2 separate regions of the Homo sapiens genome follow, and region 2 is linked to region 1. Evidence: fine-mapped expression QTL. A gene starts in region 1. The other region holds a variant in brackets. All regions are shown on one strand. Distances are from middle to middle.

Region 1 (10,715 bases):
TCTCTGTTTTATGGTATTTCATTTAAGAATTTTTTTTAACTGCCAGTCTGTAAATATTTAACCAGCCAAGCAGGAAACAGCCTTTTATTCTCGACTGTATACAGCTTTTGTTTTTATCTGGGTTAGCATGGGTGCCATGTAAATACCATATAAAATTTGACTTTGGTTGTCCTTACTTTGAAGATTGACAGGGGTTTCTTTAATTAATCTTGTTTCCTTTCATGTTCTGTATTGAGATATTGAAATACAGTATTTTATACATTTATAGGATTGTGTTTGCATTTATTTAATTTATGTTTCTTTTTTTGAAGCATGTAGCCTTGAATGTTTGTTCTACCCTTTTTTTTTTTTTCACATCATTACTCTGGTGCTGCTTGATGTAACTTGATTAGCTCCCTCCCCAGTCATGATTGGTAATTAAAATAGGCATTAAAATTAGTCACTTAGCAATTTTGCTGTTCAATTGGCAATTAAATTACTTAATTGCAATTAAAGTCCTAATTTTAATTGGCAAAATGATAGATGTAGATTTAAGATAATATGTATAAATACTTTAATAAGTGTCTATATAAGGATTACTTAATTACTCAACTTCAAGTTTATGCTGTTAACTTTAGAACTTTTAAGTGAGCAATGAAATTTATATTACATCTATTCAAAGGATATGGTAATTAGATTTATTACTTATCACTATAAGGGTCCTTGCTTTAAGTTACTTTTGTAGTGTTAAAATTGTAGGCTTGATAATTGCAGAATTCTGATGAGAAAAAGGGCATATATGTCTCTGTTGCAATATTATCAATACCTTCATTTTTAAAATTAAATTGAGACATTCCATCCACCAATTAGTCTGAGGAAAAAATCAAAAGTGGTTATTTTATCATTAAAGATAGAACAAAAACTAGCCAGCTTGTGATTTACATATAAAAACTTGCAAAATGTATGTATTTTATCTAAATTTAAATAAATGCTATCTAATACTGGTAGTGTTATAATGCTATTAACTACTTTTAGAATTTGCAGATATTTGATGTTTTCTTAGCATGTAGCAACTTATTTTCATAATCTTTAAACTGTCTTTTAGGACTTTGTACATTTTAGTGATGCCTATGTTTACTAAAATTAGCAATGAAATCTAAAACCAAAGTTATTCTTCTTTGCCTAATAAAAAATAGTTCTTAAATAAGAAAATATTAAGTGGTTAATTTAAAAGCAAGTATTTAGGAGATGGTTACTGGGTGTCAAGTATTAACAAAAAATGAAGGATTTTTATTATGCAAAATACTTTTTGAGTGGCATGAGGTTTTACCATATGTTCAGTTTTATAATTTCAATTTACAAGAAGATGCTTCCAGAAAAAAGAATGCTGTTTTTTTTCTGCACATCTTTACACATTTCTAGTACTGAGTTCTGTATCAAAGAAAGAAATAATTTTAAAAGTATTTGTGTTAAGTGGTTTTTGGTAAAAATCGGCTGAGAAATACTGAATAAAAGCTACAACTATCCAAAATGTGAATATTAACAAAGCAATTGACTTGTTCTTTAACCATCCTATGAGAAAGGAACAAACAATTTGGTCAATTACTATCCTGTCAATGCAAATGAAATGGCAAAAGCAAAACAATAAAAACACTTTCAGAAGTAAAAACTAATTTTGTATTTTCAGAAACAGATTTTTTTCAAAGTGAAAATTTATTTCTTGTATCAGTAATGTGACTTACTGCCCAATGGCAACAAATGCTGTGAATGAGTTTGTCCAAATGTAATTTAAAATATATATCTTGTAATGCTAAAAATAGGTTCTACAAAGTAATTTTATTATGAAAAATCTTAAAGTTGCCTCAACTCGTAAAGCATAACAGGTATGTCTGTTTCACTATATCTGCATTGTAAGGTCTATTCTGAATTCATTTGGGAAGAATGGTGAAATAAATCCCTAAAGGCCTCTTTCCTATGCATTAAAATAGAAAATCCTATGGGATTACATTCATGTTTGCTTTCTAAATTATGCCAAAAGCTCAATTTTATTAAGTATAATCTGCCTAGCCATGCATAAAATAAACTACTTTGGTTTAGATGTGAGTATATGTATTATTTATGTTGATTTTTAATGAAAATATGTTTACATGTACCAATATGTTCTGCCTAATATTGGTTAATGTCATAAAAGATAATATAGTAACATTACTTTCCTAAATGTTTTTCTGTGGTCATCCAATAGTGTTTCTTAATAGTAATGCTTTTTAATTTATTTTAGTTGGTTTCAAAAGAGGATAGGTGCAATTTTTACTCCCACTCATTTTAAAAACTGTTAAGAAAATAGACCTTCATTGTGGGGTAACTTTACACATTTATACATGGCAATAGTTTAAAGTTATATCGGCTGCGGGGGCCTGAAAAAGCCATTATTGTCATTTTAATTGAGTTATAAAATACTTTATTTGAACTATTTATGTTCAAGAATCTTGAAGGGTTACAGTCATATAAATGCAGAATTTCAGTTTCTTTTAGCCTAAAGCATCGTTTTAACATTTTCTGAAAGGTTGTTCAATTCTACATTTTGATTCCATATGTGTAATTAAATCTCTATGCACAAAAGCATTCTCTTATGTACTAGCAAATATACCCACAGGAATCTCCTTCTAAACTATAATTTATTTAACATGTAATCATAGGATTTTAAAACATGCTTTCATTTTTCCAAACTGTATGCCAATTTGAACTTCTTGGTGATAAAATGAGAGATTTTATTACCAGTTTGATTTTTTCCTTCTGTGACCTAACAGTGAGTTAAGCATGAGCAGGAGGAAATAAAGAAAATCTTTTGTGAACCTAATCCCATGTGTTAAAACTGTTTCCCTTTTGGAGAAAATAGAAGAGAATCAAAGATTTTTAGTTATTTATGAATTCCAGCACAATATGAATATTTGGGCCTGCAGCATTCTCTTTGGTTTAGCTTAGGTAGTAAATAGCTTGTGTGTGTGTGTGTGTGTGTGTGTGTGTGTGTGTGTGTGTGTGTGTGTGAGTGATTCTCTTGAACGTTGTGGAGTCAGGCCCCCTACTGACTGGATCAGTCAATTACACACACATTGGCGGTGCTACTGAGACATCGTCCCATCAGAATCTGGTGAGGAAAACTAGTCTGGGGTTTTGAGCGTGGCCTTTTTTTTTTTTTTAAACACTTCTGATCTATATGCTGAATCCTTTCCAACCCATCTCATCCGGGCCTTACAGAAACCCTAGCCTAAGAAGTAGCTTATTCAAAATTGGTTTAAACGAGTTTAACAGTCTTACATCCGGCGTGTCTTCCTAAGAAACAGTAAAAGCTTCCCAGAAACCAGAATAGGACTTTGAAGAGGAGAGAACTCTTACACAGATGATGGAATAGATGAGAAAGGTCTCCCCTTTCTCTCATTTTAATTTATATTTAATTTTATATTTAATTATATTCCCAGTTAATAATAATTGTTATAATAAGCTGCTGTGAAAACGACCCTTCATTCTTGGTTGCATTAAGACTTGGACAAAGGCTGTTATCAGGAAGCCGCACTCGACAGGTTGTTATTAAAGAATAAGGCATCATATTACAATGTTTGGCTTCCTTGGAGCTCACTTTAAGAACTCCAGGACACTTTTCAGCTCTCTGGGGAGGCATTTTCAAATTGTCCCAGGCTCAACCCAACCTAAACTGAATGTGTTTTTAATGGCAATGAGGGAGGGGGAAGCGTGCAGAGTGAATGTATCTACTTAGACGGGAGTATGTGTATGGAGGCTGGTGGTTACAACCTTCAAGTTCTCCCGGCCCCCGTTTTCCTAGGACTATATTAAAAAATAATAACTGCCACCCCGGCGTGCCTGTGCTTGAGTTTCCGACTGCCTGAAAATAGCGGCCGGGAGCCTGGCCCACCGCGGGGATCAAGGAAAGCTTCCCGTGGCCGCGCCCTGCTCCCTCGCGGAAGGGGAAGGGAACCCGGGAGGGCGCCTCTGAGCTGGAGTTGCTGCTATTTTGGGCCCAGCCTGGCCGGTGCGTCAATGCCTGCGCCCCTGCGTCACCGCCACCCCCACCCCCTTCCTTCTCCCCAGCTCTCCAAACTCTCACTTTTTCCCTTTCGTTCGCATGGAATCGCTTCTGCCCACGGGGCGCTGACGCTACCGAGCTCATGCTAATATGCTATTCTTCGCCCTCCCCTCCTCATCCCCCTACTCACACACCCTCACCCGCCACCACAACCCGCCCCCCCCACCCACTTCCTGGTTTTATTTTTTTTCTCGCGCCCGCTAGGGCATCGCCGAGCAGCGGCGGCGGCGGCAGCAGCAGCGGCAGCCGCAACATCTGGGGGAAACTTAAGGTGGTCACGTAGGTTTCCCCGAGGCTGCGGCGCAAAAGAGCCCGCGGCTTCCTGGGGCAGCCGCAGGGCATCTGATGGCAACGCCTCCCCAGCCGCCGGCGAGCTGGGGGCAGCAGGGAGTAGGCAAAGGCGGGGCTGCAGATTAGGGTTGAGCAGCCCGGGATCCCGAATAGTTCCACGGAGCCATCGGCCGGTACTGAGAACACGAGTAGGGGGGCAAGTTGCAAAAGGGTCCCGGCTGCCTGGAAACGAGCCACACCGAGAAAGGAGGGGCGGCTGGGACGCTCTGCGCGAGTAGAAAAGCGGGGGCGGCTCCGAACTCTCCCTCCCAAGGCCCAGCCGCTGGAAGCCCCGCGGGAGAAGCCCTAGGAAGCCCTCCCAGCTCCGGCCGGGAGACGGGGAGGGGGCTTGCCCTCCGGAGCTGCGGCGTTTCCTTTGCTAGAAAGCTCCCTGCGCTCTCGGCGTGGCTAGGGGAAATGACTTGCAAAGCAGAAGCGGCGGCGACTTGGACGGCCGCGGGGGTGGGACACGCTCCCAGAGCCAGCTCGGGCCCCTCTCCTGGCTGGGCTGTAGGCTCACACCTTACGCTTTGCGGAGACGCTGCCCCCAATCCCCACCCGCTTCGCTTTTCTTGTCCAGTCTTTCTGGGCTCTAAGATTGAGGCTGTGATAGACCTTGTGTTTCAAACGAAGATCGATTTATTCCCTTAAAACTCGTGGAAGGGGTACGAGTTGGTGGGCACAGAGGAGTATCGAAAGTATTAGAGTTTGCAGAAGGTGGGAATCAGAGTACCTTTCTGCAGAAGGCGCACCTGTTGCCTGCTGCTCGGCTGCATTGTCTGCGAAAGGAAAAGGGGCGACGCTTCACTCTGACTTTTGGGGTTTCTAAAGAGCTGGGTCACGGTCACTGTCTACCCTCTCCCCTTCCTCTCCCCCCCCCCCGCAAGCACCACGTCCTCCATCGAACGTGGGCACTGCATGGAAATAAGGAAACATAGAAAAATAAGCCCTACCCCCACTCCCATTCCCTTTCAGATGGGAGTGTGGGGGGTGGGGGTGGGGTAGAGAGAGTGAGAGAGAGAGATAATTAGAATGAATATATGCCAGAAGAGGAGGAGGCCTGGGACAGGAAAAGGGAGTAAAAGGGGATGAACCGGGTAGGGAAATCCCACCCGAACTGCGTGAGCCCTCTGAGCGTCTCGTGTCATGGGACATCTGTACGCTCTTCCGCTAAGGGGGTGACGAAGGTGGGTGGGAGAGGTTAGGGCGCTGCAAGGCACATCCCATTCCGTGCGGCTCCAGGTGCGTACTACCTGGCCACGCCGGCCTTGCCTTCCGCCGGTGCTTTTGTTGCACCCTCCCCACATGTGAGCGGCCGAGCCGCTGCGCGGGCGCAGGGGCTTCGGGGAAAGTGAAGTGTCGCGACGCTGCGGGCTGCGCAGACCTGGGAGAGGTCACACCTCTTTCGGAAAAAAAAAAAGAAAAGAAAAAAAACACCAAAAACCACCCAAGCTGGCTACCAAGGTGAACGCAGAGCGGTTCCCACCTTAAAATCGGCCCTGCTCGTGACGTCAGGTCGGAAATATACCAAAGCGAGCGCGGGCCAGGAGTCCAGGGAGCGCGGCAGCGCGGCGATTGGGCGGCGGGCCGCTGACGCGCGCTGACGCGCGGAGACTTTAGGTGCATGTTGGCAGCGGCAGCGCAAGCCACATAAACAAAGGCACATTGGCGGCCAGGGCCAGTCCGCCCGGCGGCTCGCGCACGGCTCCGCGGTCCCTTTTGCCTGTCCAGCCGGCCGCCTGTCCCTGCTCCCTCCCTCCGTGAGGTGTCCGGGTTCCCTTCGCCCAGCTCTCCCACCCCTACCCGACCCCGGCGCCCGGGCTCCCAGAGGGAACTGCACTTCGGCAGAGTTGAATGAATGAAGACAGACGCGGAGAACTCCTAAGTGAGTAGATGCAGCCCATGCAGTTCGCCTTCTTTTATGCTTTTTCCTTCTTTTGCACGTCTCTTCTTTCCACTTGTGTGGGACAGGTTCTCTGGAAGTGGGAGCCAGAGGCTTCTAGTGAGAGTGGGACCGAAGGATGGGGAGTGCGTGCGCGCAGTTACCGGGGGGCATTTGTTCGAACTCCGGCTTTGGCACTAGTGGGGAGTTGGCTCTCGACAGAGGTTTCCAGGCTCCTCATTGGTGGACGTGGAAGGGAGACTCCACAGTTTGGGAGCTGAGGACTAGCCCGCGGAAATGTGCGCAAAGTTTGCTGTTAGTGAGGAATTGATTGTGGCCTGTGAACACGGAGACTCCAAGTCCTATGTATACGAGGGAAGCTGCCCACAAACTGACAGGGAGAGGAAGTTCTTCAGTTTATGCGTTGCTTGGGAACTGTGTCTCCGCGGCTGGCCAGCGCGCGATGTTTCCCGGGTATTGTTGAGTAAGGGTGGTGTTGGTAGCGTGTCCTGTTACTAAGTTGCCTGAAATTTCTGGTTTTGACATATGCTGTCCTTGGGTTTGCGAATGTATCAGAGCGAGAATATGAATATGTAAAGAGTACAGTTATGAAACTGTGGAGCTACCAGGGGGTTAATATCCAACACAGGAATATCTCTAAGGGCTGTGGGGTTCGAGTCTCCTTTCTGCTTTTTCTGGGTAATCTTCCCCCCACCCCCACCACCACTATGAAGCAAGATTGTGGGGGAGGGGAAAGAATAAAAAGAGAGGATACTGGCTTTCTTTTTTCATTAGTAATAAGATTGTCTGTGCTCTAGAATGTCTTCCAAGTGGGAACATCTGAAAATTGCTAGGACACAAGAATGCCTTGTTCCAGAAAGGCAGATTGTGGAAGGCATTATGGGGAAGGTGTTCATCTTGCTGTGCTGGGAAACACTTCTAATATTGGTGCCAATACCATATAAGCAGTATGTCCCCCCTCTGCAATTGACCTAAGAAGCTCCTGGAAAAGTAGATCCCCTCTTCCCACCTTGTGACCATTAAGCCTTGTGACCATTAAAGATGCTGAAAGACAAGTTTTCTGGAAAAGTGAACATCAATTTATCTGTAGCTCCAATCCCAGTGCTCTGTCAAAAGCACTTTAGAAGTGCGGATGCTTCCACTCAACTTGCCTTCTCAGTCAAGGCCTTTCTAACATTTTGTAAGGGGGAAGATTGTTTTCTCATTTTATATTCTTGACTTCTACTTTCTTCCCCTCTACCAAAAGAAAAGGCAATTTCACCACAAGAAAAAAAAATGCAAGAGAAGGTTCCAATGCTGTATTTTCATACTCTAGTCTTCATACTCAGGTCCTGAATTAACCTAAGATGGAAATGACCTCTCCACCTACACTGTAGCAAAGGGGCCAGTTCATTACATCATAAATGTTAAATGAGTTCATGGACTAGCTTTCCTCTTGCAGGATCTTCTCTCTGCAAGGATTTACACAGTGCAATGGGTGGTATTTTCTGTTGTTTCAAGTCATTTCTTTTATACATTCATTTTAAGTGCTATGTTTGGTAAAGGCTTCCCACTCATTTCCAATGAGACAAACAGGGAAGGCATGGAAGGGCCTGCCTGGTGAGTCTACATATGCCCAGCTGAATCTCTGTCGGGAAGAAACCCTGAAGCTTCCTGTGTCTGTATTTCAGGGAGGAGATTGGACAGGCTGGACTCCCCATTGCTTTTCTAAAAATCTTGGAAACTTTGTCCTTCATTGAATTACGACACTGTCCACCTTTAATTTCCTCGAAAACGCCTGTAACTCGGCTGAAGGTTAGTGCAACTTCATTTCTTTCCTTTACTCTCCAGAGCTCCCCAAACATCAAGAAACAGGACAAGGCAAACCCTGTAACTTAAGGTTTGCCCGACCCATCGCCTTCGGGAACAACTTTCTCATTGTGAAATTCAACTTCATTTCTAGATGGTCATTTCTAGAAAGAGACTGCTGAATCTGAGCTTCAGAGAAGAGGCTCATCTGAGTGGGATGAGTGGGGGGGTATGAGGGAGATGTTTGGAAATACCCAGGAGTGTAGACCCTCAGTAGCTTTTTAGCTCTGGGTCTTTATTTGGTTAGTCTTTCCACGCCCTAAACTGTTGTTCTGCAGCATTCTCTCTCTCCTGCCTTTCCTCTCGCGCCCCTACATGCTCTCTGACTGCCGCGGGCTGCCGGTGTAGCTCCAGGTGTACCCGAGCCCGGGAGAAAGTGTTCAGTTGACCAGGCTGAGTGTGTTATCACCCTGTTTCATTTCCAGCCATGCCTTGTGTTCAGGCGCAGTATGGGTCCTCGCCTCAAGGAGCCAGCCCCGCTTCTCAGAGCTACAGTTACCACTCTTCGGGAGAATACAGCTCCGATTTCTTAACTCCAGAGTTTGTCAAGTTTAGCATGGACCTCACCAACACTGAAATCACTGCCACCACTTCTCTCCCCAGCTTCAGTACCTTTATGGACAACTACAGCACAGGCTACGACGTCAAGCCACCTTGCTTGTACCAAATGCCCCTGTCCGGACAGCAGTCCTCCATTAAGGTAGAAGACATTCAGATGCACAACTACCAGCAACACAGCCACCTGCCCCCCCAGTCTGAGGAGATGATGCCGCACTCCGGGTCGGTTTACTACAAGCCCTCCTCGCCCCCGACGCCCACCACCCCGGGCTTCCAGGTGCAGCACAGCCCCATGTGGGACGACCCGGGATCTCTCCACAACTTCCACCAGAACTACGTGGCCACTACGCACATGATCGAGCAGAGGAAAACGCCAGTCTCCCGCCTCTCCCTCTTCTCCTTTAAGCAATCGCCCCCTGGCACCCCGGTGTCTAGTTGCCAGATGCGCTTCGACGGGCCCCTGCACGTCCCCATGAACCCGGAGCCCGCCGGCAGCCACCACGTGGTGGACGGGCAGACCTTCGCTGTGCCCAACCCCATTCGCAAGCCCGCGTCCATGGGCTTCCCGGGCCTGCAGATCGGCCACGCGTCTCAGCTGCTCGACACGCAGGTGCCCTCACCGCCGTCGCGGGGCTCCCCCTCCAACGAGGGGCTGTGCGCTGTGTGTGGGGACAACGCGGCCTGCCAACACTACGGCGTGCGCACCTGTGAGGGCTGCAAAGGCTTCTTTAAGGTGAGCAATGGCGGGAGCGGAGTAGGCAGGTAGGGAGCCCCTAGTGCCCGGGACCTCGGAGTGTGCCCTCTGCCTTGGTGCCAGTAGCCCAGCCCCAGCTCTCCCGGGACTGCCCAGCTCTCCGGGGTCCGCCGAAGCTGCCCTGCAGGAGACCATGGGCTGCGGCGGGGACTTCCGGGTGTCTGAGAAAGGGAAGCAGAAAGACTGGGAGGCCAGGGTCGCATCCCCCTCGCATTCAGCCGACCCGGCTGGCCCCCGCCCGAAGTTGCTGGAGCCGGAGTTGGAAGAGGGTCATTTGCATGTGCTAGGAGCTGTCTTCCCTGTTCAGAATGAAATTGGTTAGGACAGAGAACCGTGTCTGAGCTAACCAAGTGGAACAGAATTCCCTATGGTCAAATTAAGTGATCTCTTTATTTCGCCATCCTGATTGAATAATCTTATCATTTTAAATAGAGAAGGTCTCCAAGGAATGTAAATAATATGAATGCCCACGGATTTGTATTTACTGAGCGTCTCCTTCTCCTTCTCTTGGCATATAAAACACAGCAAGGAGCGGCAAGGTTAGCTCAAATGTTAACGCTATCAATTTTCTTCTGTTAAATGCCCTGGGGGAGGAAAAAAGAAAAGAAAGAAAGAAAAGGAAGAGAAAAAAATAAAATGGAATTGTGTGTATGTGTTTGTTTGTGGGGAGGAATCGTAGACCCCAGTCACATAACAGAAATTTTCTCCGAGTTGCCTGATTTTCAAAAGAAGAAAAAAAATGTTGGTCTATATTGTCTCCTTTTGCAGCGCACAGTGCAAAAAAATGCAAAATACGTGTGTTTAGCAAATAAAAACTGCCCAGTGGACAAGCGTCGCCGGAATCGCTGTCAGTACTGCCGATTTCAGAAGTGCCTGGCTGTTGGGATGGTCAAAGAAGGTAGGCTGAGGGGAGCTGCCGACCCTCCAGTTTGCGCCTTTAGGAAACCACTGCTCATACTCCAGCATCACGTTCCACTTCCCGGTGCTGGGGATCTCCGACTCCCCCTCAGTATGGCCTCCAGGACCCTGCAGCTGCCTGCTTGCCCGGCCTTCCCTAGAGAAAGCCGCCAGGCCCTTCTCTCCTTTAACTATACGACCCATTTGGAGGAAGACATAAAATAACCCCGCATTTTTTAATGCTTCTAGTCAGTGAAGGCTTTACAAGCACTGGGGCCCTCAGCCGCTCAGCCTGGTGCCCCGCGGCTGCGGCCTTCCCCGGGGAGGGACCGAGGCAGCAGCTGGGC
Region 2 (10,715 bases), 120 kb before region 1:
AATTTCTCTTCTATCCTCTTTCAAAAGTCTTACCTGTCTGAAGTTTATGCCATTAGACTTTACCACCCATTATCCCTTCTCGCTGTCATCTACCCAACTACTGCTATTTCCCCTTATTTGCTGATGACCTTCATACCTATTTCCCTTTCCAGACTCATCTGTCTTCATCATTGCAGTTTTCTTTTTTGTTTTGTTTTTTGTTTTTGAGACAGAGTCTCACTCTGTCACCCAGGCTGCAGTGAAGTGGCGTGATCTCAGCTCACTGCAACCTCCACCTCCCGGGTTCAAGCGATTCTCCTGCCTCAGCCTCCCAAGTAGCTGGGATCACAGGCATGTGCCACCATGCCCAGCTAATTTTTGTATCTTTAGTAGAGCCATGGTTTTGCCATGTTAGCCAGGCTGGTCTCAAACTCCTGACCTCAGGTGATCCACCCGCCTCAGCCTCCCGAAGTGCTGGGATTACAGGCCCGGCCATCATTGCTGTTTTCTACAACTACATGAAGGCTCCAATTCCTCAACCACCTCACCTCTGATGACCTTTGTTTGACCCTACCTCATTATCATAACCTCTGATTTGGGCATCCCCACTATTTATATCAACTCCGCAGACTCCAGCCTCAAGCACCCTACACTGTAAACACCACCTTCTCTTTCTTCAGTTTATCTACTGTAGTCTGGAATTTCCATTCCACCATCTTGGCATTATCTGGCCCTTCAGTCCATTGACCCTACTATTTGCTTCACTATCAGTCACTTCTCCTGCTGCCTAGCTGAGAATTAAATTAGGTCCATCACTGTAATTTCTCCCTTCCAAGCACCCTTAACTCCCTTGCTCCTCTCTTCATGCTTCATTTTTACTTGGCAAACCCCCAAACCAGTTAAACCCAACTATCTGCCTGTTTCACATCTCCACCCAAACAGCTGAAGAAACTGCCTGGGAAAAAAAACATGCAACCACAACTGGCCTCAATTTAAATTCATAGCTGCAAATCATTAATGTGCAATCCACACTGACCCACAATCCTATTACATTTCCCCAGGATGTTTCAAAATAGCCATTTGAAATCTCTTTTCCCAAACCTGTTTCACCCCTCCACACCCCAATATCATCACACTTCACTGGGAAAGTAAAGTAGATGCAACTAGGTAAAAATTTCATCTTCCCACCACCCAAATGATGACTTATCCACCTCTGTACTCATTCTCTCTGCAGTCCTTCCTTTTACTAATAAAATGTGCCTGTTTCAAGTAAAGACCAATCATTCTATTTGTACACTAGATCCCCTTCCTTCCTGGCTCTTCAGAAATTTTATTTGTACAATTACCCACCACTCTCTCCTACCTTCATCAGCTCCTCTTCTCTACTTAATCATTTTGTCAGCATAGAAATTCACTGTATTATCCTCTAGTTCTAACAAACCCTCCCTTGACCAATATCCTCTTCCAAGAACTTTTCCACGTCTCTGCTTTCCTTCATAATGAAACTTCTTGAAAGAGTTCTCCCTCTCCCCTCTCCCCTCTCCCCACGGTCTCCCTCTCCCTCTCTTTCCATGGTCTCCCTCTGATGCCGAGCCGAAGCTGGACTGTACTGCTGCCATCTCGGCTCACTGCAACCTCCCTGCCTGATTCTCCTGCCTCAGCCTGCGATTGCAGGTGCGCGCCGCCGCGCCTGACTGGTTTTTGTATTTTTTTGGTGGAGACGGGGTTTTGCTGTGTTGGCCGGGCTGGTCTCCAGCTCCTAACCGCGAGTGATCCGCCAGCCTCGGCCTCCAGAGGTGCCGGGATTGCAGACGGAGTCTGGTTCACTCAGTGCTCAATGGTGCCCAGGCTGGAGTGAGGTGGCGTGATCTCGGCTCGCTACAACCTCCACCTCCCAGCCGCCTGCCTTGGCCTCCCAAAGTGCCAGGAGTGCAGCCTCTGCCCGGCCGCCACCCAGTCTGGGAAGTGAGGAGCGTCTCTGCCTGGCCACCCATCGTCTGGGACGTGAGGAGCCCCTCTGCCTGGCTGCCCAGTCTGGAAAGTGAGGAGCGTCTCTGCCCGGCCGCCATCCCATCTAGGAAGAGAGAAGCATCTCTGCCCGGCCGCCCATCGTCTGAGATGTGGGGAGCGCCTCTGCCCCGCCGCCCCGTCTGGGATGTGAGGAGCGCCTCTGCCCGGCCGCGACCCCGTCTGGGAGGTGAGGAGCGTCTCTGCCCGGCCGCCCCGTCTGAGAAGTGAGGAGACCCTCCGCCCATCTGAGAAGTGAGGAGCCCCTCCGCCTGGCAGCCACCCCGTCTGGGAAGTGAGGAGTGTCTCCGCCCGGCAGCCACCCTGTCTGGGAGGGAGGTGGGGGGGTCAGCCCCCCGCCCGGCCAGCCGCCCCGTCCGGGAGGGAGGTGGGGGGGTCAGCCCCCCGCCCTGCCAGCTGCCCCGTCCGGGAGGTGAGGGGCGCCTCTGCCCAGCCGCCCCTACTGGGAAGTGAGGAGCCCCTCTGCCGGGCCAGCCGCCCTGTCCGGGAAGGAGGTGGGGGGGTCAGACCCCCGCCCGGCCAGCCGCCCCGTCTGGGAGGGAGGTGGGGGGGTCAGCCCCCCCGCTCGGCCAGCCGCCCCTTCCGGGAGGGAGGTGGGGGGGTCAGCCCCCCGCCCGGCCAGCCGCCCCGTCCGGGAGGGAGGTGGGGGGGTCAGCCCCCCGCCCTGCCAGCTGCCCCGTCCGGGAGGTGAGGGGCGCCTCTGCCCAGCCGCCCCTACTGGGAAGTGAGGAGCACCCCCGCCCGGCCAGCCGCCCTGTCCGGAAAGGAGGTGGGGGGGTCAGCCCCCCGCCCTGCCAGCTGCCCCGTCCGGGAGGTGAGGGGCGCCTCTGCCCGGCCACCCCTACTGGGAGGTGAGGAGCCCCTCTGCCCGGCCACCACCCCGTCTGGGAGGTGTGCCCAGCAGCTCATTGAGAACGGGCCATGATGACAATGGCGGTTTTGTGGAATAGAACGGGGGGAAAGGTGGGGAAAAGATTGAGAAATCGGATGGTTGCCGTGTCTGTGTAGAAAGAAGTAGACATGGGAGACTTTTCATTTTGTTCTGTACTAAGAAAAATTCTTCTGCCTTGGGATCCTGTTGATCTGTGACCTTACCCCCAACCCTGTGCTCTCTGAAACATGTGCTGTGTCCACTCAGGGTTAAATGGATTAAGGGCGGTGCAAGATGTGCTTTGTTAAACAGATGCTTGAAGGCAGCATGCTCGTTAAGAGTCATCACCACTCCCTAATCTCAAGTACCCAGGGACACAAACACTGCGGAAGGCCGCAGGGTCCTCTGCCTAGGAAAACCAGAGACCTTTGTTCACTTGTTTATCTGCTGACCTTCCCTCCACTATTGTCCTGTGACCCTGCCAAATCCCCCTCTGCGAGAAACACCCAAGAATGAGCAATAAAAAAAAAAAAAAAAAGAGTTGTCTATAAGAACTGTCTCCACTTCCACAATTTAATCCAATAAACTTTGTCCCAGCCTCTTCTTAAACTATATGTCAAATTGTCAAAATCACAAATGACCTCATTTCACCAAATGTAATCTCTATAATTAACATAGTAGAACCGTCTCTTTTTTAATATCTTTTGAATTCTTAGCCTCAGAGACACCACGCTCTTCTGCTTTCCATCCCATCCCACTGGCAACTCCTCCTTCTCTTCTATATAATAGTTGCTCAATGGCCTGCTTCTCTCTATATACATTCTCTGTAGGTAACTCCATCCAGTATCAAATATAACCTATATGCAAATAATTCCTAAGTCTGTATCCTCAGCCAAACCCCTCTCAGAATCTCCAAACCCCATTCACCCAGTTGTCTGACATCTCCAAAGGAATATCTAATAATCACTTCAAACTTAGCCAAAGCAGAACACTTTATATCTTCCATCAAGTCTGCCTCTCTCCCAGCTCTCCCCTTCTCAGTAAGTGGACCAGCTCTCAAATAGAAAATGCAAGCCTTTCTTTTATTCTTCTTCCTTTCCTCCAAATAATCTAGCAGGCAAGTTCACCCAACTAATTCTATCTCAAAAATATATCCTGAATCTATCCACTTCTTTCTATGCTTTTTTCTCTTTGAGACAGAGTCTCACTCTGTCACCCAGGCTGGAGTGCAGTGGCACAATCTTGGCTCACTGCAACCTCCACCTCCCAGGTTCAAGGCTCCTGCCTCAGCCTCCCTAGTAGCTGGGATTACAGGCATGTGCCACCATGCCCGGCTTTTTTTTTTTTGTATATTTAGTAGAGATGGAGTTTTGCCATATTGGCCAGGCTGGTCTCGAACTCCTGGCCTCATGTGATTCACCCGCCTCAGCCTCCCAAAGTGCTGGGATTACAGGCATAAGCCACCACGCCCAGGCCACTTTTTTCTATCTTTAATACAATGGTTGTCCATTCAATAATAAGTTCTTGGTTGGGCAACCAAAACAGACTAACTAACTCCCACTTCCCATATTCTGTTTACTTGTAGCAGCCAGCATAATCTTTGATGGCATGTATTCTCAATGAGAGCAATATCACCCACAGTTGCTTCTTGGCAGGTGAAAAAATATTGCATATTACAATTGTCTGTGGCCCTCCAAACTTCAACTCTACCCAACAAAATCTTCTTAGCATTTAAGCAGTACTCTCTTGTTGGGGAGAAATTAAGTTTTTAATTAATTAATTTTAATTTAATTTTTCTTCTTGGAAAGGTACAGTGAGAAGAAATTAAGAAAGACTACTTTATAGCAAAACCACACAGTTTCTCTTGCCTGCATATAATCCTCTAATGGTTTCTAGCACCCTAGAATGAAATCTAAACATCTCACCTTGGATTATAAAGACCTATAGGATCCAGCCCTTCACTGCAGTAGGTTAAATAATGACGCCCACAACATATCCTCATCCTAATCCCTGGAACCTGTGAATGTTATAAGGAAAAAAAAAAATTCACCAATGTGATTAAATTAAGACCTTAAGAGGGAAAGGTTATTCTGAATTACCAGGGGGAACCCTAAATGTAATCACTTTACATCTTTGTAAGAAGAAGACAGGGTGATTTGATACAGATGAGAATGCAATGATGTGACCACAGAAGTAGAGACTGGAGTGATGCAGCCACAGCCAAGGAATGCCAGAAGCCACCAGAACCTGAAGGAGTTAAGGACCATATTCACTCCTCAGAAGGGAGCACATCCTGCTAACTCCTTAATTTTGGCACAGTGAAACTGACTTCAGATTTCCGGCATCCTGAATGATGAAAGAATAAATTTCTGTTGTTTTAAGCCACCAAGTTTGTGGTCATTTGTTACAGCAGCCACAGGACACCAATACAGACACCTCTCACTCTTACCCACTAAGTTCCAGATTTATTTGCCTTCTGATGTCTGTCAAATCAGGATTACTATTAGTGTTTTGGGGCCAGCTGCCTCTACCTGGAATGCTCTGCTCCTCAACTTTGCATGGCAAGCTCCTTCCAGTCATTCACGACTCAGCTTAAATGTCAAGTCCTCAGAGAGGCCTTCCCAAATTATTCAAATCCAAAGTATGCATACAACTCTTATCTTCTCATGTCTCTCCTTTATTTAAGCATTATTATTTCTTTGTTCCCCACTAAAACATAATTCTACAAGAACAGAAACTGTGTTTGTTTTGTACACCACTATAATCTTATTTGTAGAAAAATTGCTGACATAGGCCAGGCGCAGTGGCTCACGCCTGTAATCCCATCCCAGCACTTTGGGAGGCCAAGGTGGTGGATCACGAGGTCAGGAGCTCAAGACCAGCCTGACCAAGATGGTGAAACCCCGTCTCTACTAAAAATACAAAACAATTAGC[C/T]GGGCATGGTGGCAGGTGCTTGTAATCCCAGCTACTCGGGAGGCTGAGGCAGAGAATTGCTTGTACCTGGGAGGCGGAGGTTGCAATGAGCCGAGATCATGCCACTGCACTCCAGCCTGGGCAACAGAGCAAGAGTCAAAAAAAAAAAAAGGGAAAATTGCTGACACATATTAGGTGATTGATAGACCTAACAAACAAATGGATGGATGATGTAGGCAGTGAGAGAAAAGATGATGGCATTTGTCAATAAGGAAAGGAATAGCATGGGAAAGCAGGAAGAAATTATGGGTCCTGACTCAACTGTGGGACATGCAAGTGGAAATGCCTGAGTTCAGCGAATAAGTCTGCCCAAGAATGTTGACTTGGGATTGACTGAAATCAGGGATATTGATGAACTTGTTGAAAAAGCATCAACAGAGAAAAGAGAGTGAACTAAAGACAGACCCTGGGAATTCCAATATCAAGGCAAAGAACCTGCAGAGAGATCCATAAGGAGTAATCCAAGAGAAGATGTCACAGTAGCCTAGTGAAAACTCAGTTTCACAGAAAAGAGAATGAGCAGAATCATGGAAATTTTAAATAATAAAATCTCATTGATTTGTCAGTCAAGAGGACACTCATAATCATAACAAGAGCAGAGTTGGGCCAGGCTCACACCTGTAATCCCAGCACTTTGGGAGGCTAAGGAGGGAGAATCGCTCAAGCCCAGGAGTTCAAGACCAGCCTGGGCCACATGGCAAGGCTCCATCTCTATAAAAAAAGTAAAAATCAATCAGGTATGATGGCCTGAACCTGGGGTCCCAGCCACTCAGGAGGCTGACGTAGGAGGATCGCTTGAGCCCAGGAGTTCAAGGCTGCCATGAACTATGATTGTGCTACTGCAATCCAGCCTGAGTGACAGGATAAGACCCTGTCTCAGGAAAAAAAAAAAGAGAGAGATTCATCTGAGATCGAAGACAGATTCCAACAGTTGTGGAGGGAATGGAAGGTGAAGAAGTAGAAAAATAATGCACAAAAAGTACTTTAAGGAAGAACAGCTTGAAGGAAAGGAGAAAGAGAGCATGTAGCAAGAGGGCAGAATGGGGCACAGGTGCAATGTTGGTTATTGGTCTTGTTTGTTTTTGTAATGGGAGAATCTTGAGCATTCTTGTAAATATTTGAAATGCATCTCAGCATCTCCAACACAAACAAACAAATAAATACATGCAGGTAAGCATAGAAAAATGTCATAGAATAAGGCATCTGAAGGGAATGGGGGATCCAGAGTACGGGGGAAAGCATCAACTTCGGATAACCACCTCTAAGTCAAGAATTAATGAGGGGTTGATGGATTCAGATATAAAAATGATGTGGAAAGGAGAAAAATTTTAAGATTTGACATGTTATTTCAATTCTCTCAGAATAATAGAAGGCAAGGGCCGGGTGCTGTGGCTCATGTCTGTGATCCCAGCACTTTGGGAGGCCAAGGCAGGCAAATCACAAGTTCGAGACCAGCCTGGCCAACATGGTGAAACCTTGTCTCTACTAAAAATATAAAAATTAGCCAGGCATGGTGGCACGTACCTGTAATCCCAGCTACTCTGGAGGCTGAGGCTTAAACCCAGGAGGCAGAGGTTGCAGTGAGCCAAGATCGTGCCACTGCATTCCAGCCTGGGTGCCAGAGCCAGACTCCATCTTAAAAAAAAAAAAAATGCAAGGACACTGTGAAGGGGACAGCTAAGTCATTATCAAAAATGCATATTCTCTTCTTCCTGGACTTGCAGCTAGACTACATGTGCCAATCTCCCTTTCAGCTAAGTATCACTACACAACAGACTTCCAGCCAATGGTATATGAACAGAACTAATGCATTCATTTCAAGATTATGTGTTTAAGGCCAGGCGCAGTGGCTCACACCTGTAATCCCAGCACTTGGAGAGGTTGAGGCGGGCGGACTGCCTGAGGTCAGGAGTTCGAGACCAGCCTGGTCAACATGGCAAAACCCCATCTCTACTAAAAATACAAATATTAGCCGGGCATGGTGGCACATGCCTATAATCCCAGCTACTTGGGAGGCTGAGGCAGGAGAATCGCTCAAGCCCAGGAGGCAGAGGTTGCAGTGAGCTGAGATCGTCCCACTGCACTCAACCTGGGCAACAGAGCGAGACTCATCTCAAAAAAAATAAGTGTGTGTTTAGAAAGTAGATATGCTTCCTGCCTTTCCCTTTCACCATCCACTGGCTGGCTGTAGTTGAAAAGAAAGCCCTAAGGAATTGCTGAGTCATAAAATGGAAGAATCCAGAGTGCCTGAATCATTGAAAGGAAAGTGATCCACCAACAAAGACCATGATATAAGCAAAAATTAAACTTGTGCTTGAGCTTGTATCTATTTTCAGGCCTTTCAGTTATGATGGTTGAGCCTACCCTAACCACTAACCATCATCTTTTAATAAAGAAATGCCTGGGTGACATAAAAGACTCAAAGAAAATGCTGAAAGTTTGAAAAAAACTACAGCAAGAAATAGAAAAAGGTATTGTGTAGAAAAAGGTAAGATAACTCTCTCATGACTAAGGCTGGAGAACATACATTTTTATACATCTCCAATACACATAATCATTTTCGTTTTCACAATAACCATCAGAAACCCAAGTATAGGAGTAGAAAAGAAGACTGATACCAAGTTGCACATTGCTTCTACATCCATTAAGACTAAGAAAATTTTAACAACTTCGTGGATTCCTACAAGTCAAATCATAAGCAATGTCATTATAGGCATGCTGTGCTATGTATGCAACTATTTAAACAAGTTCAGCATCATTGGTGAAAACTGGTGAACTACAAGGTAAAGTATTAGGAAGTGTAAGTGTTAAATGGCACAGTTCAATGGTTGGGCAGTGGAATACAATGTTGCAAAAGTCAAGAAATACATTACAGAAATAGGAATAGGATTATCTCTCGATTCTATTGTTTTTAAAACAGTTTTTAAGGGAGTTTCTGCCATACCAGAAAATAACCACATGCATGGCTTTAAGTCCCTTAACTTCTCTGTGCCTTTTTGCTCCCTGATATGACAGGGTTCACTGTTGATACATTAAAAAATGTGCACAAAGTACTCAGCACAGTGCCTAGAAAATGGCAACTGCTTAATAAATACTTGTCATTGCTGTTTATTATTAATAAGAAAAAGACCACGTTAGGTTAAATTGCTAAACTCCTTCCTATTTTAAAATTCTGTGAATCTGGCCAGGCACAGGGGCTCATGCCTGTAATCCCAGCACTTCTGAGGCAAAGGCAGGAGGATCACTTGAGGCCAGGAGTTCAAGACCAGCCTGGGCAACATAGTGAGACACTGTCTCTAAGAATTTTTTTTAAATTAGCCAGGCATGGTGGCACACACCTGTCATTCTAGCTACTCAGGAGGTTGAGGAGAAGAATCGCGTGACGTAGGAGTGCAAAGCTGCAGTGAGCTATAAATGTGCCACTGCACTCCTGCCTGGGCAGCAGAGCAAGACTCTGTCTTTAAAAATAATAATAAATAAAATTATGTTAGTGTGTGTGTGTGTGTGTGTATTTGTTTTTGAGACAGTCTTGTTCCGTTGCCCAGGCTGGAGTGCAATGGCGTGGTCTCCGCTCACTGCAACCTCCACCTCCCAGCTTCAAGCAATTCTCATGCCTCAGCCTCCCGAGTAGCTAGGAATACAGGCACCCACCACCACGCCTAGCTTATTTTGGTATTTTTAGTAGAGACAGGGTTTTGCCACGTTGGCCAGGCTGGTCTCAAACTCCTGGCCTCAAGCAATCCACCTGCCTCGGCCTCCCAAAGTGCTGGGATTACAGGCATGAGCCACTGCCCCCTGCGGAATCTATATTTTTTAGATAAGTATCCCAGCTACTTAATGGCGGATGGGGATGGGGAAAAGGGGTTAATACTAGCAAACACAGTGAAAGAAAAAAGTGAAAATATACTTGTTATGATAGGTCCTATGAGCATAATCCTGAAGAGAGATAAAAGGAATGTGGCAGCCTCTAGATGTGAATGCTATACCTGGAGAGGCTGAGAGCAAGGAAACCCCAAACTCCAGGTAATAAAAGGAAAATCTAGGCCAGGGTCCAGAGGCAAACAGAACCCAGTGGCCATGACTGGCTTCCTTTTAGGCAGGACAAGAGAAATAAACATTTCATGCTCTCCATGGACTTCAAATTCATCCAGTCCAGCCACCTTATTTGACAAGGAGAAAAGTGAAAGGTCCAGACAGTGACCAAAGCCACACTTGAGTGGCTATAATGTGGCTGCAGGGATGCTCAGAAGTAGGCACTGCCCACCTTTGACCTAGCCCACATAAATGGTCCCCAATGCGCTGTCCCCATAGAATCCAACGCCTTTGATAAGGGGGACAAGGTAATTTTTGTAAGTCATCTTGTTAGGAATTCATTTTCCAGATTCTTTCTTAAGAGATTGGATTAGGTGGGTAAGTAGGGGGAAGGGAGAAATTGGTGAAGAGAAGGAAGCCCTGGTGTCCTGACAGAGGTGCTGAGTCCTCAGTGGACATTAAGTGGCCTCCTTATTTGTAGATTCCTCCACTGATTTTCTTCAAGGATTCCTTTTATAATGTCACTTCGCCCCTTCCCTCTCCTAAATATCCTTAAGATATTAAACCTCTCAGCACCTTGGGAGGGAAAAAAATTTTGAAATAAAAATAAAAAGATTAAAACTGCCAAATGTGTAGGGAGGGAGATGCCTAAAAAAAGATGAAGCTTAAAGTATCCAGTTGAATAGATTACCTGAAATACACCTGCCTGTGTGGTATCTGGTGTCCAATCACACCCAGCACACTCTTATCACTTATTGCTGAATTGGGGATGACTGAATTATGGGGCAACCATTAATGAACAACTGCTTACTAGGTGTCACCCACATGAAAG

Evidence for each region. PIP is the estimated chance that this variant, and not a neighbour inherited with it, causes the effect.
Region 2: its variant is the best candidate, but not a certain one, in a credible set for the expression of NR4A2 in whole blood (INTERVAL, PIP 0.67).

Annotation. Positions count from the first base shown.
Region 1 is chr2:156,328,058-156,338,772 of GRCh38, reverse strand. NR4A2 (nuclear receptor subfamily 4 group A member 2) reads left to right here and starts at 6,052. Exons shown (of 8, transcript NM_006186.4): 1 at 6,052-6,293; 2 at 7,982-8,105; 3 at 8,585-9,450; 4 at 10,240-10,369. The coding sequence starts at 8,587. FLJ46875 (a long non-coding RNA gene) reads left to right here. Exons shown (of 1, transcript NR_147695.1): 1 at 1-2,201. RefSeq lists enhancers at 3,791-3,890, 3,449-4,321, 5,791-5,870 and a silencer at 6,101-6,300.
Region 2 is chr2:156,443,367-156,454,081 of GRCh38, reverse strand. All of the region lies in intron 1 of GPD2 (glycerol-3-phosphate dehydrogenase 2), which reads right to left. Among named protein-coding and RNA genes, the nearest start is that of GPD2, 12 kb to the right of the region's middle. RefSeq lists an enhancer at 8,006-8,065. The variant C/T (reference allele first, on the strand shown) is at 5,813.